Homo sapiens: one gene and its partners. The protein of the gene in region 1 purifies or fractionates together with the protein of each later gene. This does not show direct contact. Each region holds a gene or a part of one and is shown on either strand. Other genes may lie near its edges.

The links. The genes of interacting proteins can lie anywhere in the genome.
Region 2: the proteins of KRTAP19-4 (region 1) and PLGRKT purify together in Homo sapiens (affinity purification with mass spectrometry; one large-scale study listed by BioGRID and IntAct). This does not show direct contact.
Region 3: the proteins of KRTAP19-4 (region 1) and EXOG purify together in Homo sapiens (affinity purification with mass spectrometry; one large-scale study listed by BioGRID and IntAct). This does not show direct contact.
Region 4: the proteins of KRTAP19-4 (region 1) and NLN purify together in Homo sapiens (affinity purification with mass spectrometry; one large-scale study listed by BioGRID and IntAct). This does not show direct contact.

Annotation. Positions count from the first base shown.
Region 1 is NC_000021.9:30,496,324-30,498,374, reverse strand, and holds KRTAP19-4 (keratin-associated protein 19-4), read left to right. Parts: upstream 1-1,209; 5' UTR 1,210-1,264; coding exon 1,265-1,519; 3' UTR 1,520-1,551; downstream 1,552-2,051. UniProt on the Homo sapiens protein: In the hair cortex, hair keratin intermediate filaments are embedded in an interfilamentous matrix, consisting of hair keratin-associated proteins (KRTAP), which are essential for the formation of a rigid and resistant hair shaft through their extensive disulfide bond cross-linking with abundant cysteine residues of hair keratins.
Region 2 is NC_000009.12:5,427,926-5,431,425, reverse strand, and holds part of PLGRKT (plasminogen receptor (KT)), read left to right. Parts: intron 1-3,500. UniProt on the Homo sapiens protein: Receptor for plasminogen. Regulates urokinase plasminogen activator-dependent and stimulates tissue-type plasminogen activator-dependent cell surface plasminogen activation.
Region 3 is NC_000003.12:38,509,840-38,513,339, forward strand, and holds part of EXOG (nuclease EXOG, mitochondrial isoform 1 precursor), read left to right. Parts: intron 1-3,500. UniProt on the Homo sapiens protein: Endo/exonuclease with nicking activity towards supercoiled DNA, a preference for single-stranded DNA and 5'-3' exonuclease activity.
Region 4 is NC_000005.10:65,823,205-65,826,493, forward strand, and holds part of NLN (neurolysin, mitochondrial), read left to right. Parts: 3' UTR 1-3,289. UniProt on the Homo sapiens protein: Hydrolyzes oligopeptides such as neurotensin, bradykinin and dynorphin A. Acts as a regulator of cannabinoid signaling pathway by mediating degradation of hemopressin, an antagonist peptide of the cannabinoid receptor CNR1.

The DNA of each region.
Region 1 (2,051 bases):
ATCTCTAGGGAATGATATTTGCCATAATGGAACAATGGAAACATTTTGGAGATTAGAGTGTGCTTGGTGTAGGTAGTGTAAGCACATATGCAAAAATTCATCAAATTCATCACACACACACACACACACACACACACACACACACACACACACACACATACACCTTTTTCTTCTCAGGAAATACCATGCTAGTCCACTAAGTTGTTAAATGTTTATTAAGGTATAGGATATATAAAAAGATAATTTAAATATAAGGGCTCTTTGAAATTCAATAAGATACCATTAACATTAGAAATGTTTTCAGAATCTCCAAAATGTAGGTATAATATTACAAGATAACAGGCAGAAGAAATAACTGAGGGTGCAAGTCCTCAGTTGACTCCAAGAATTTAGTCACATACAGCCACAGGTGACCCCAAATATTGTTAATTCAGCTGTGCCCTTAATTTCAACTTTGAGCTTTTAAGTTCTTTTTAACCTTATATGATCTCAAATACAGTGATCAGTTATTTTTAGTCTTATAAGTAATTTCCAAATGTTGTGCTTTCACAACTGAATTTGCATGCCTCTTTGCAATAATTACCTTGTAGTAACAACACAATACATAAATGCTGAAAGGATGAATAAATTCTAAAGTCTATGCCTCTCAAAGGCATGAGTAATTCTCTGGCTACATCTGAACAATAGGGATTTAAAGATGAAATGAAGGCTGGGTGAGGTGGCTTATGCCTCTAATCTCAGCACTTTGGGGGTCGAGGGAGGAGGGTCACTTGAGCCCAGTAGCTTGAGACCAGTCTGGGCAAAATAAAGAAGACAAAGAAATGAGCTCCAATAGCATCTGACTTTAGAGGAACATATAACCTTCATTTTATTTCATTTGTAATATGCAATATGTCTAGCTATGAAGAAATCTATTTAGGATCTGGTATGCCAAGACTTTAGATACAGCAATTTCTTCTCATTAAGTGGTGTGATAACTTTTAAGGGCCACTCCAATTCAGCAACAAAGCAAACTCAAACAATTTAACGATTGTGAGGGCCTCTCCTTGTGCCAGGGAAAAATGAATGACTTGTGTTAAGTAACTAATTTAAAACACACACACAGACACACACACAACAAACAAACAAAAAAACAAAAAAAACAGGTACGCATGTGACTCATCACATACTCTTATCAGGGTATATAAGCCTCCCTCTACACGTGCTGCCATTCACACTTAGGATCTTGCCTTGAGCAGCCAAACAACTCACCACTCCTGACGCCATGAGCTACTATGGCAGCTATTACAGAGGCCTGGGCTATGGCTGTGGAGGCTTTGGTGGCCTAGGCTATGGCTATGGCTGTGGATGTGGCAGCTTCCGCAGACTGGGTTATGGCTGTGGCTTTGGAGGCAACGGATATGGCTACTGCCGCCCATCATGCTATGGAGGATATGGATTCTCAATTCTACTGAAATCCTACCCTGAGGACACGATATCAGAGGTCATAAGAAGATCATTCAATTTAACCAAATATTGAGTCAAACAAGGGCACACTAGATCAATCCAAGATGAAAAAAAATAGCATCTAAGATGTTAGGAATATTCATTATGTTATAATTGCCTATATCGTGTCTACTGGCATCCACTACCTATACTTTCCTAACTGTGTAATTGCTTAGTTCCCTTTGCAATAAATTGTCTCAATTTGAAATGGCACACATGGCTTCTGTTTATTTATTTGTCTATTTGTTTAAATGCTGACTCTCAATTCCATTGCATATTTCTTTTCTTGATGCTTCCCAATAATCTTAAAATTCTGGTCTTATATTCGTGTAACAATCACAGCTGAGTTTTGAAGATTAGTCTACTTTTCACAGTATATGCCTCTTTTTATTTAAGATTTTGATGAATCTTGAACCTCTTAATTTCTAGCATATCTAGATCTAAATAAAAGTTATTAGTAAATAATGATAAATTCAAATGGTATAAAAAATTAAGAAGCATTAGAAAGACTCAGACTTGTTTACTAAACATAAGAATAGGTTTATACAGCCAGCTAGTAAGACCCA
Region 2 (3,500 bases), on another chromosome or scaffold:
AGTAGCTGGGATTGCAGGCATGCACCACCACTCCCGGCTAATTTTTGTATTTTTAATAGAGACAAGGTTTCACCATGTTGGCCAGGCTGGTCTCGAACTCCTGGCCTCAAATGATCTACTGGCCTCAGCCTCCCAAATTGCTGGAATTACAGGTATGTGTGCCTGGCCCACAAGGGTCTTTATAAGAGAAAGAAGGAAGCATGAGAGTCAGTATAAGAGAGATTTGAAGATGCTACACTGCTGGCTTTGAAGATTGTTTAAGGATCATGAGTCAAGGAATTCAGGAAGCCCCTAGAGGCTGGAAAAGGCACGGAAACAGATTATTCTTTAGAGCCTCTACAGGGATGCAGTCCTGCCAGCCCATTTTGGACTTCTGAACTTAGAACTGTAAGATAATAGATTGGTGTTGTTTTAAGCCACAGACTTCGTATAATTTGTTACTGCAGCAATAGGAAACTAACATGGAGTGTGAAACCTTAACATTGGATTTAGACGTGGCTGGATAGAAAAGATCAAAGCACTGCAGAAGATTATCTAATTGCCTAATACAGGTTGTAAAAAACATTTTAAAATGTTGCAAGTCAAAAAATCAAGTCTTAAAAGTTTGACCCGAATTATTTTCCTAAGATTTCAGACAAAGATGTCTAGGCCTCTGTGGCCCATTATGGCTCTGGGAGTAGAAAGTCCTCTGGTAAGGCATGTAGCTAGTGGTTAAAAATGAAGACTAAAGCCAGACTGCCTGAGTTTGAATCCCAGTCCCACCCTTGACTAACTGTGTGACTTGTGCCTCAGTCTCCTGATCTGTACACTGGAGGTAATAATATCCCCTTCAAAGGGATGTTTTAAAGATTAAAGATGAAATATATAGAACAATGCCTCAAGTTTTTAGAAAAATGCTTCTCACCTCATAAATATTTGTTGCTGTTGTTACTATTATTGTTTTTAATGACTGACAAGAGTGTCTTATGCAGAATAAATATCTCTTTGGGGACAATGAAACAATTGAAAGAATGGACAACTGAATTATTGTAACAGAGCAGTGACCTAGGCGAGACCAAGTATTAGGTTTACAAATCAGCCAGCTATCCGATGCTTAGCACGTCCTTGTCAAAGACCTTTGGAAACTACAGGGTTTTTACTCTTATGTTGGTCCCCATGAAGTCAGGGTCTGTGAAGGGTCTGGGATTTTACCCTACTTGCAAGCTAACGTGTTAGCCTATTACAGAAGACTGGAGACAACTACATCAGAGTCAGAGGACTTTATTACTCACAGCACAGCAAACAGCATGAGCGTGGTGGTGTTAATTCCCCATGTCCTCCAAAACTCACCGAGGTGACAAAGATGGGCACGGGCGAAATGAGTGCTATGCACTCAGTGGATTTGTGTCACAGTTGAGCAGCGTTGAGCTTAGGGAGCCTACTGCTTTTACAGTGGGCCATGAGCAAGGGGTGGGTTGTGGCAGGGGGAGAGGGTGGGAGCTACTCTCCTCGTAGTTGTTGTGTCCTGGTTGACCCACCCCAAAATGGAGATGTCAGACCTGGGAGTTACAAGCCTCCATGGGTTCATTTTTAACAAGAGCTCAGCAGCAGACCAACGATTGCGTCCCCTTTTTGAAAGGGGTGTGTTATGGGTTGAAATGTGTCTCCTGTCTCCAAATTCATATGTTGAAGCCTTAACCTATAGTACTTCAGAATGTGATCTTGTTTGGAGATAGGGTCTTTACAGAGGTAATCAAGTTAAAATGAGGTCGTTAGAATGGGCCCCAATTCAGTGTGACTGATGGCTTTATGAGAAGAAGAAATTTGGATACAAGACCATACAATTCATACTGGACTATGCATACCGGGACCATACAATGTGAATATGAAGACAGCTGTTTACAAGCCAAGGAAGGGGCCTGGAACAGATGCTTCTCTCACAGCCTTAGTAAGGAACAAACCTTGCAGACACCTTGATTTTAGATTTCTCCCCTTCAGAACAGAGACAATAAATTTCTGTTGCTTAAGCCGTCCAGTTTGTGGTCCTTTGTTATGGCAGCCCCAGCAAACTAATACAGGATGTATTTGGTGCCTGTGCCAAGCAGGTGGTGCTGCTGCACTGGGCAGTGGCCTCACTGGAGCTTCATAGTGATTTTCTTTTCCTCCCTGGGCTTCTATGTTTCTATTAGACCACCTAGAAGGGGTCTGGGAATCCCTGACTGGGGAGTCTGTTTTGGTCACTGTGAGTTTTATAATACAAGCATGTAATACATCAATGTCATTGTACATTTGTATGTAGTGGGTAGGGAGAGTGTTGACACACATCACAGTATCTTGAATTGGCTATAAAGGTCCCTTTAATTTTTTTTTACTCATTGTGAAGTTTGCTTACACTCTATCAGTTGAATTCAGTTACTTTCCCCCACCTAGTCACAATATACATGTGATCAAGCATGATGACTCACACCTGTAATCCCAGCACACTGGGAGACCATGGCAGGATGATTGCTTGAGCCCAAGAATTCAAGACCACCCTGGGCAACATAGTGAGACTTCATCTCCATTTAAAAAATTTAAAAAATTAGCCAGGCATGGTGTTACACAACTATAGTCCCAGCTACACAGGACGCTGAGGTGGGAGGATTGCTTGAGCCCAGGAAGGTCAAGGCTGCAGTGAGCTGTGATCATACCACTGTACTCCAGCCTGGTTGACAGAGCGAGACCCTATCTCAAAAAACCAAAACAATAACAATAAAAGAACAGAGACAAAAGAGTTTAACATAGGTACTTCAAGGGTGGTCGTAATAGTTTCAAGAGATTATGCTGTCTCCAGCTAGGGGAGAGGGGCAGGGAGGGCTTTTTGTCCTTTGGCTCCTCGTCCCAGAATGGGTGCTGCTTCCTGTCCTGTGTTCTCTGGCCTCTGGAGAGAATGGCCACTCAGAGCCATCATTATTTCAGCCTTTGCTGGAGCCACTGCATGGCCTTGCAGTCTTTGGAGCTCTGGGCCACCCCAGTGCTTAGCATACTTGCCTTCCCTGAGACCAAGTAGACTTTGGCACTCGTGTCCAGTCCAACAGAGCCATAAAATTTTGAGTCCTTCCCTGCCCTGAAGTTCCCCAGCATACTTCCCTAAAGCAGAGGGAGTTGGAGGAGAGGCAGGGGAGGATTGGGGACTGGAGGGAGAGAGCCACTCAGTGCCAGTAAGCAAGGCTTTGTATTTACTTTATTTCAAGTGACCTCTGCCACTGGGCTCAACAGACAAGTTTCTGACGCTTTTAGTCTACCCACAGTTCTCTACCCTCATTGTTAACACCATTTATTTCAGCTCTGGGGACCCCTAGATTCAGCAGCCATCGCCACGTCGCCTTGTTTTTTGGCTGGATCGTGGAGCTTGCTGCCCCATTGTCATTGATAACATCCTCCCTTCTCCCACCCCAGAAGGGAGTATGACACAGCCAAAGCACCATTAGGACACCTTGTTTCAACCCTACCTTTTGTTGTTCAACCACATTTAACACATA
Region 3 (3,500 bases), on another chromosome or scaffold:
GCATACCATAGAATGTCAGTTAATAAATTTGCGAGAATGAAAGAGTTATACAAATCATTTTGCACACATCACCATAATTGATTCAGGCAAGAGTCATCACTAGCTAAAACTAGTGAGTGAATGTTTTATGAGGAATAGGGTATTTACATAATCTAAAAGTATCTCCTCATACATTATTTATTAATCACAAAGTAAGAAATAACTTTACAGTGAAGAAACATCCCATTACCCAAGTGATCAAGTTTAGTATTGCTAGTAATGGGACTTAGTGAAACGCTGTACTCCTGGTGTGATGCACTGAGCAGGATAAAATATCAGGCATACCCCAATTGAGAGACATTCTGTGAAACAGCTGACTTCTACTTTACAAAAGTGTTAGTGTCATAAAAGACAAAGGCTGAGAAACTATCTGTTCCAGATTAATAGATTAAAGAGTCATGCAAACAAAATGTGTAGTATGATCTTAGATTAGATCCTAGACCAGAAAAAAGTTGCTAAAAAGGATGTTATTGGGAGAATTGGCAACATTCGAGGTCTGTTATCTAATATACAAATTAGATAATTGTGTATTTTCAGTATTAAATTTCCTGATTTTTAAAATTGTTCTGTGATATGTAAGTAAATATCTTTGCTCTTAGGAAGTCATATCCTGAAGTGTTTAGGAGTAAAATGGTGTGCCTGTGACTTTTAAAAAGTTTAGGGAAAAGAGAAGAGAGTGATAAAGCAAATAGAACAAAATGTTAACAATTGGTAAATCTGAGTGAAGGATATAAAGGAAGGAGTTCTTTGTGCTGTTCTTACAAATGCTAAGCTTTTAATTAATTCAGAATTTTAAAATTATATATTAAATATTATATAGATATTTAAATAAAATATTAAAAGATATATTAAAATAGTTTATCAGTGAAATGATACTCAAACATGTTCAAGCTAGCCTTAAAGAGTTTCAAAAGAGACCTATCAGCTCTCCTCACCCTAGTTAGTGTCATAATGATCAGTCATGTGAGGTCAGTCAAGATCAGCTTCCTGAAGAGTATACTTTGAGTAATAGTCTTGTTTCTTGTTTTTATTTTAAAGACTTGCTGGTCTTAGGTATTCTCTTTCAGATTCTGGGCTTCTAAGGTCATATCATTAGTTTTCCATGTCTCTTATTAATTTATAGGACCTATGCATGTTCACACTGGCAAATCTTTAATTCAGTAAGTCATCCGTTCAGCAAATTTTCAAGTACCTGTCATGTGGGAGGAAGGTATACAGAATTGTAAATGGCATGCTCCAAACTTATATTCTTGATTACTTTCTTCCTCTCCTGTATTTCACATCCTGGCAGTCATCTCTCACTCTTAATTACTTTGAACCAACAACTTTTATTAATTCTCTTTTTTTAAAATAACTTTTACTTAGACATACCGAAGCTCTGAACACCTGCAGTATTGCAGAGGCCTCTAATGGGTTTCTCTGCCTCCAATTGCGTTGGCTACCAGTCTATCTGGAGTACAGAAACCATGACAGAGAAAGTATACGTTGTTACTTTCCTAATCCTCGGAACCATAAAAAAAGGAATAACATTAAAAGAACAGAAAAGGAAACTTCATTTATACTGAAATTAGGGAATGTTCACAGTCCTGTATCAAGGAATTTTTCAAATAATATCTGCAAGATAAAGTGAAATTTGGACCAAATTATAAAGGATGTTAATTTGACATGTCTCCTCTTATCAAAGCATGGGACAGGGTACTAGAATTAGTAAGGAAGTTCAGACCTACCGGTAGTAGACCACAGGAGAAATTTCTGGTGTTTAACTTGGAGCTTATCCCTTTATCTTGCAATAGTAGGAAAGGCAGGGTGGTTATAGTTGTTAAAAGCACATATTTCATGTCAGATCTGGCCTTGGATCTTTGCTTTGATACTTACTTGCATGTGGTCCTGGGAAAATGACCTAACTTCTTTAAAGTTCAGTTTTATCTGTGATATTTGGATAGTAGTAGTGTTTACCTCACCGAGTTGCTAGTATCATCGTTAGCTTGGTAGTTAGCACATAGGAAATGTTCAGTAAATATTAGCTACTATTACTCCTTTGGAGGCTAACATAAGAATGAAGACCAGTGTTTTTTGTATTCTTTGGTGCATGTACTCATAAACCTATGATTTCTAAGATTCTTTTTTACTTCTCCTTTCTTATCTACAGAAGCCCAAAAGTCAGGTGCCTCTTTATTAATTTTAAAGCACAATTTTTGTAGTCTTCTAAGTCGATGCTTTTGAGTTCATGAGTTCATGTTATGTTAGGAGTTGTGAAATTAGATACTTACATTAAACACGGTTTAGTCTTGATGCTTTTTTTTCGCTCATGGCATTAAAGTCATAACTGGCAAACTATCTTTCCTTGAAATTAAACTTGAAAAATTTTTAAATTATGCAATTATATGTGCATAATGATAAAAATGCTAAATCTTAAAACATGATTGTGGAAATATATGACATTGTAATGAAATTCAAACAGTACAAAGCAGCATGAAAAGGTAAAGTCTCACTTATACTCCTTATCCCACTGTCCAGTTTTTATTTGTTTTGGCACTTATTTCTATATCTCAGAATAATGAGCACTAAAATATATTTTTAACTTGTGACCTGTCGCTTATTAACAGTTACTTTATCTCTATAAAATTATGAAATTTATTGTTTATTTCTTGCACTGCACTATACTCTGCTAGTCATATATACTTAATTTTAGTTCTTCCGTTGGTAAACTTTGCATCATATACTTTACATAATATACTTGAACCTCTAATCTTGATCTACCATTTATACTTGTCAAGGTTTGTAGCATTTACATTTATGTTTGCTAACGATAATGTAGTCTGAGTTTTGCCTGTAGCAGAGTTTGTAAACTGAGGCCTCTTATGGCAAGTCCAGCCCATAGAGGTATTTTATTTGGCTCACATGGTATATATATATATATTTTTAAGTTTTTCATAGAGATAGGGTCTTGCTCTGTCTGCTAGGCTGGAGTGCAGTGACAAGATCGTAGCTCACTGTAACCTTTATCTTCTGGGCTTTCGAGATCTTCCCACTTCAGCCTACCAAGTAGCTACGACTACAGGCATGCACCACCATGCCCAGCTAATTTTTAAGTTTCTTTTTTGTAGAGGTGGGGGTCTCACTATGTTGCCCCAGCTGGCCTTAAATTCCTGGCCTCAAGTAGTCCTCCCACCTCCACCCCTCAAAGGGCTGGAATTAAAGGCGTGAGCCACCACACCTGACTGTATGTTATTTTTTAATTAGTTTATAATGTTTAATAATTGGGAGATTTCACATAAATCCAGATTTTAGCTTCTCTTAAATCAGATGACTCCGTAACAATTGGCATATACTCCCATAGGCAGCCAGTTTACTAGACAAGAGTATCAACCTTCTCCTTAGATTGAACACACATCTTCAAATCACTGTAGTCTTTACCTGCCCCATTTTACTCACTTACATTTCCTGTCTAGCCCTTGTTG
Region 4 (3,289 bases), on another chromosome or scaffold:
TAGATAATATGATATAAGAGGGCTAAGAATTTTTAAATTGAATCATATATATGATATAATTTGATCCTTCTTGTATCTTGAAGTTTTGTACTTGGGATTTCTGGACTGATAAATGAATCATCACATTCTTCTGGTAAATATTTTCTTGGAGCTCTGTGTCAACTTTGATCCTTTGTCTCCCAGGAAGGTGTGACCTCTCCTTTGCCTGCATACCTCAAGGCCAGGGGAATATGCCTCAGTGATGCATTTATCTTTGTATATCAGGCCGCATGATTCCCAACTTTCTGCCACACTTAAATTACGTTCCTCCATTTCAGTTTTGTCTTTTCTGTCTAAAGTTCAGTCAAAGAGTATCAAAAAATTATGTTTCAGCTAGACTGGTGTAATGTATAAGTTTTTGTATCTTGTATTAGAGGATTTCGTAGCTTTTATTAGAGGCTCATTTCCACCTCAGCATACAAGATCGTTAGTCTTTTGGCATGTGTGCCAATTAGAATACTAAAGCAAGTCCAAGCACATTTTTCTCTTCTCACGTTTCTAATAAGTGTTAGGGACTTTGCCTCTTTTACTTACCACGTCCCCAAAAGTGTCAGGTAGACATGTCACAAATGGCTCTGTAGAGAGCCATGGGAAGAGAGAGGAGGTGGATGTGGAACATAAAGGGTTCAGAAACTCCAGAAGAGGAGTGGGTTTTGGATAGAAGCATTTGAGGACAGCTGCTCCAAAGCCTTATGTGTATGATGAAACTTAACCACGGGGAAGAGACTCTTCAGTAGCCTGTTCTGTCTGGTGATTTTTATTTTAAGTGAACCTTTGGATCTATCTTTAACTCTCTTTATTGTGAGTCTAAATTCCAATTCTGCAGCAGATCAGTAAACTCACAGTATTTTTCCTGTGGAAATCTATTCAATAAGGAAACCAAGACAGGATAATAAAATTTAAAAAAAAAACAACTTTGAATTCCCCTGCCTAGGTCTTCCAGTTGTTTTCCAGCGCATACCTCAGGTATGACTTTGCTAGCCGGGGACAAAATTAGCACCTTCCGATTCTCTAGTCCAAATGAACTTTGTGCTAAATAAAAAATTATTATACTACATAATAAAGTTACAGATAGCAGGAAATGCAAGAGCTAGGAGATTCCTAGATTATATCTGCCAAGCAAATACCTTAAACATCCACCTGAAATCCTACTACCCCCTCTTCTGAGATAATTTGCCCAGCCCTTCTCTTCCCACACACTCACTCAATGTCACCCCCTTCTAATCCCCAAAACTGTTTTTGTGGTCTTTGTAGCCTATAGTAGTTTTCTCACATCTTTCCCCCTAGACTTTTCTGTTTTTCAGTTTCAGACAAAAAAACTCTTCAGCTTTTTCCAGTGTGTCTCCTTAACAGTAACTTTACCACTTGAAATCTTATTTCATAGAAAAACTAAATTGGTGTGGAAAGGCTGCACACAATAAAGTTATATTATTATCCATGAAAATGAACTCATATTTCTTTCATACTTTAACGTTAAAACCGAAATGCATGAGAGCAAAAGCACCATGGTGTTCTTTCTATTTAGGGCCTACCTCTAATATTTAAAATCTACCAAAGAGCAGTCACAAAATTAAAACTCAGCCCGGGCGCAGTGGCTCATGCCTGTAATCCCAGCACTTTGGGAGGCCAAGGCAGGAGGATCACCTGAGGTCAGAGTTCAAGACCAGCATGGTCAACATGGTGAAACCCTGTCTCTACAAAAATACAAAAAGCTGGGCATGATGTTGGGTTCCTGTAGTCCCAGCTACTTAGGAGGCTGAGGCAGGAGAATAGCTTGAACCCGGGAGGTGGAGGTTGCAGTGAGCTGAGATCATGCCATTGCACTCCAGCCTGGACGACAGAGTGAGATTCAGTCTCAAAAAAAATTAATACTCAAAGAATTATCTAGCATAATTTAAAAGAAAGGACTTTTTAAAAATTCTCTAGCATAATTCAAAAGAAAGGACTTAACTTTTTTTTTTTTAGTGTGGTCATCCGTCTAGTTGTTCTTTTTTTCCAGATCAGAGCAGAGAATATCACTGACATGCTTGAAATGGTGGATAACTATGTAAATTGTAATTGGACAAATGTACACTTTAGATTTATGGACTGAGCCACATATAATAAGGTCTCTCCTGGTAATTGATCCAGGGGATTTAGGCCTCTTTCGGGTTTTTTGTTTTTTTTTTAGGCATTGTTATGTTGTGAAGGATAAAATCTTCAACATCTTATGCAAATGGATAGTAGGCATGATCCTAAAGGTTTAGTTTTACGATGCTGCAGAGAAGAGAAATGTCTTGACGTTTTGCCACCTGATGTAGACTTTGTCCCCCTCTAGTATAAATGTTGCATGTTACCTAGATAAACAACTAAAAATTGCCTTGAGTTATCACCTGAGCTACTTATGCCAAGGTCTTGCCTTTCTAAAGCTAATAAGGTGAGAGGTGGATATCTGTAGCTCTTCGGATGAAAAATTGCATTGTGGGAGATACCAAAATTGAGGAAATAGCTCTTCAAAGAAAAATTACTGATATGATCATTGTACTTGTAAATGCCTTAAGTAGCAGGCAGTGACTCAATTTTCTACTTTACCATTTTACCTTTAGCTTTTATGTATGAATTATAGGTCTGTGGAGATTCTGCCTCCCCACTAGGCCAGTGTGTGTTTACCATTTATTCATTTTCTATCATACACAGGTGGATTAAAATTTACATTAAAATTTACATTAAAATACCATCATACTTCAGGCTTCTATAACAAAATATCAGACTGGGTGGCTTCAAAAGCAGACATTTCTTACAGTTCTGGAAGCTGGGAAGTCCCACAATCCACATGCTGGTAAATTTGGTTCGTGGTGAGGCCCCTCTTCCTCTTTTACTGACCACATCCCCAAAAGTGTCAGGTAGACATGTTACAAATAGCTCTGTAGAGAGCCATGGGAAGAGACAGGAGGCAGATGTGGAACATAAAGGGTTTAGAAACTTCTGCAGGCAGCAGTGGCAGGGAGCAAGCCCTAGAGTGTCTCTTTTTACGAGAGCAGGAATCCCATCATGAGAGTTCCTTCCTCATGACTTTATCTAAACCCAGTCACCCCCAACAAAGGCCCCACCCCCTAACCCCATCACATTGGCTGTTACGGCTTCAATGTAGGGGATGGGGCACAAACATTCAGTCCATAACGAATACTGATTCCTCAAATAGGGTTTAAACATAGTTAACTGAGCCCCCAAAGAATGTTAAAAGAGAAAATCCATTTTATTTGAATAGATG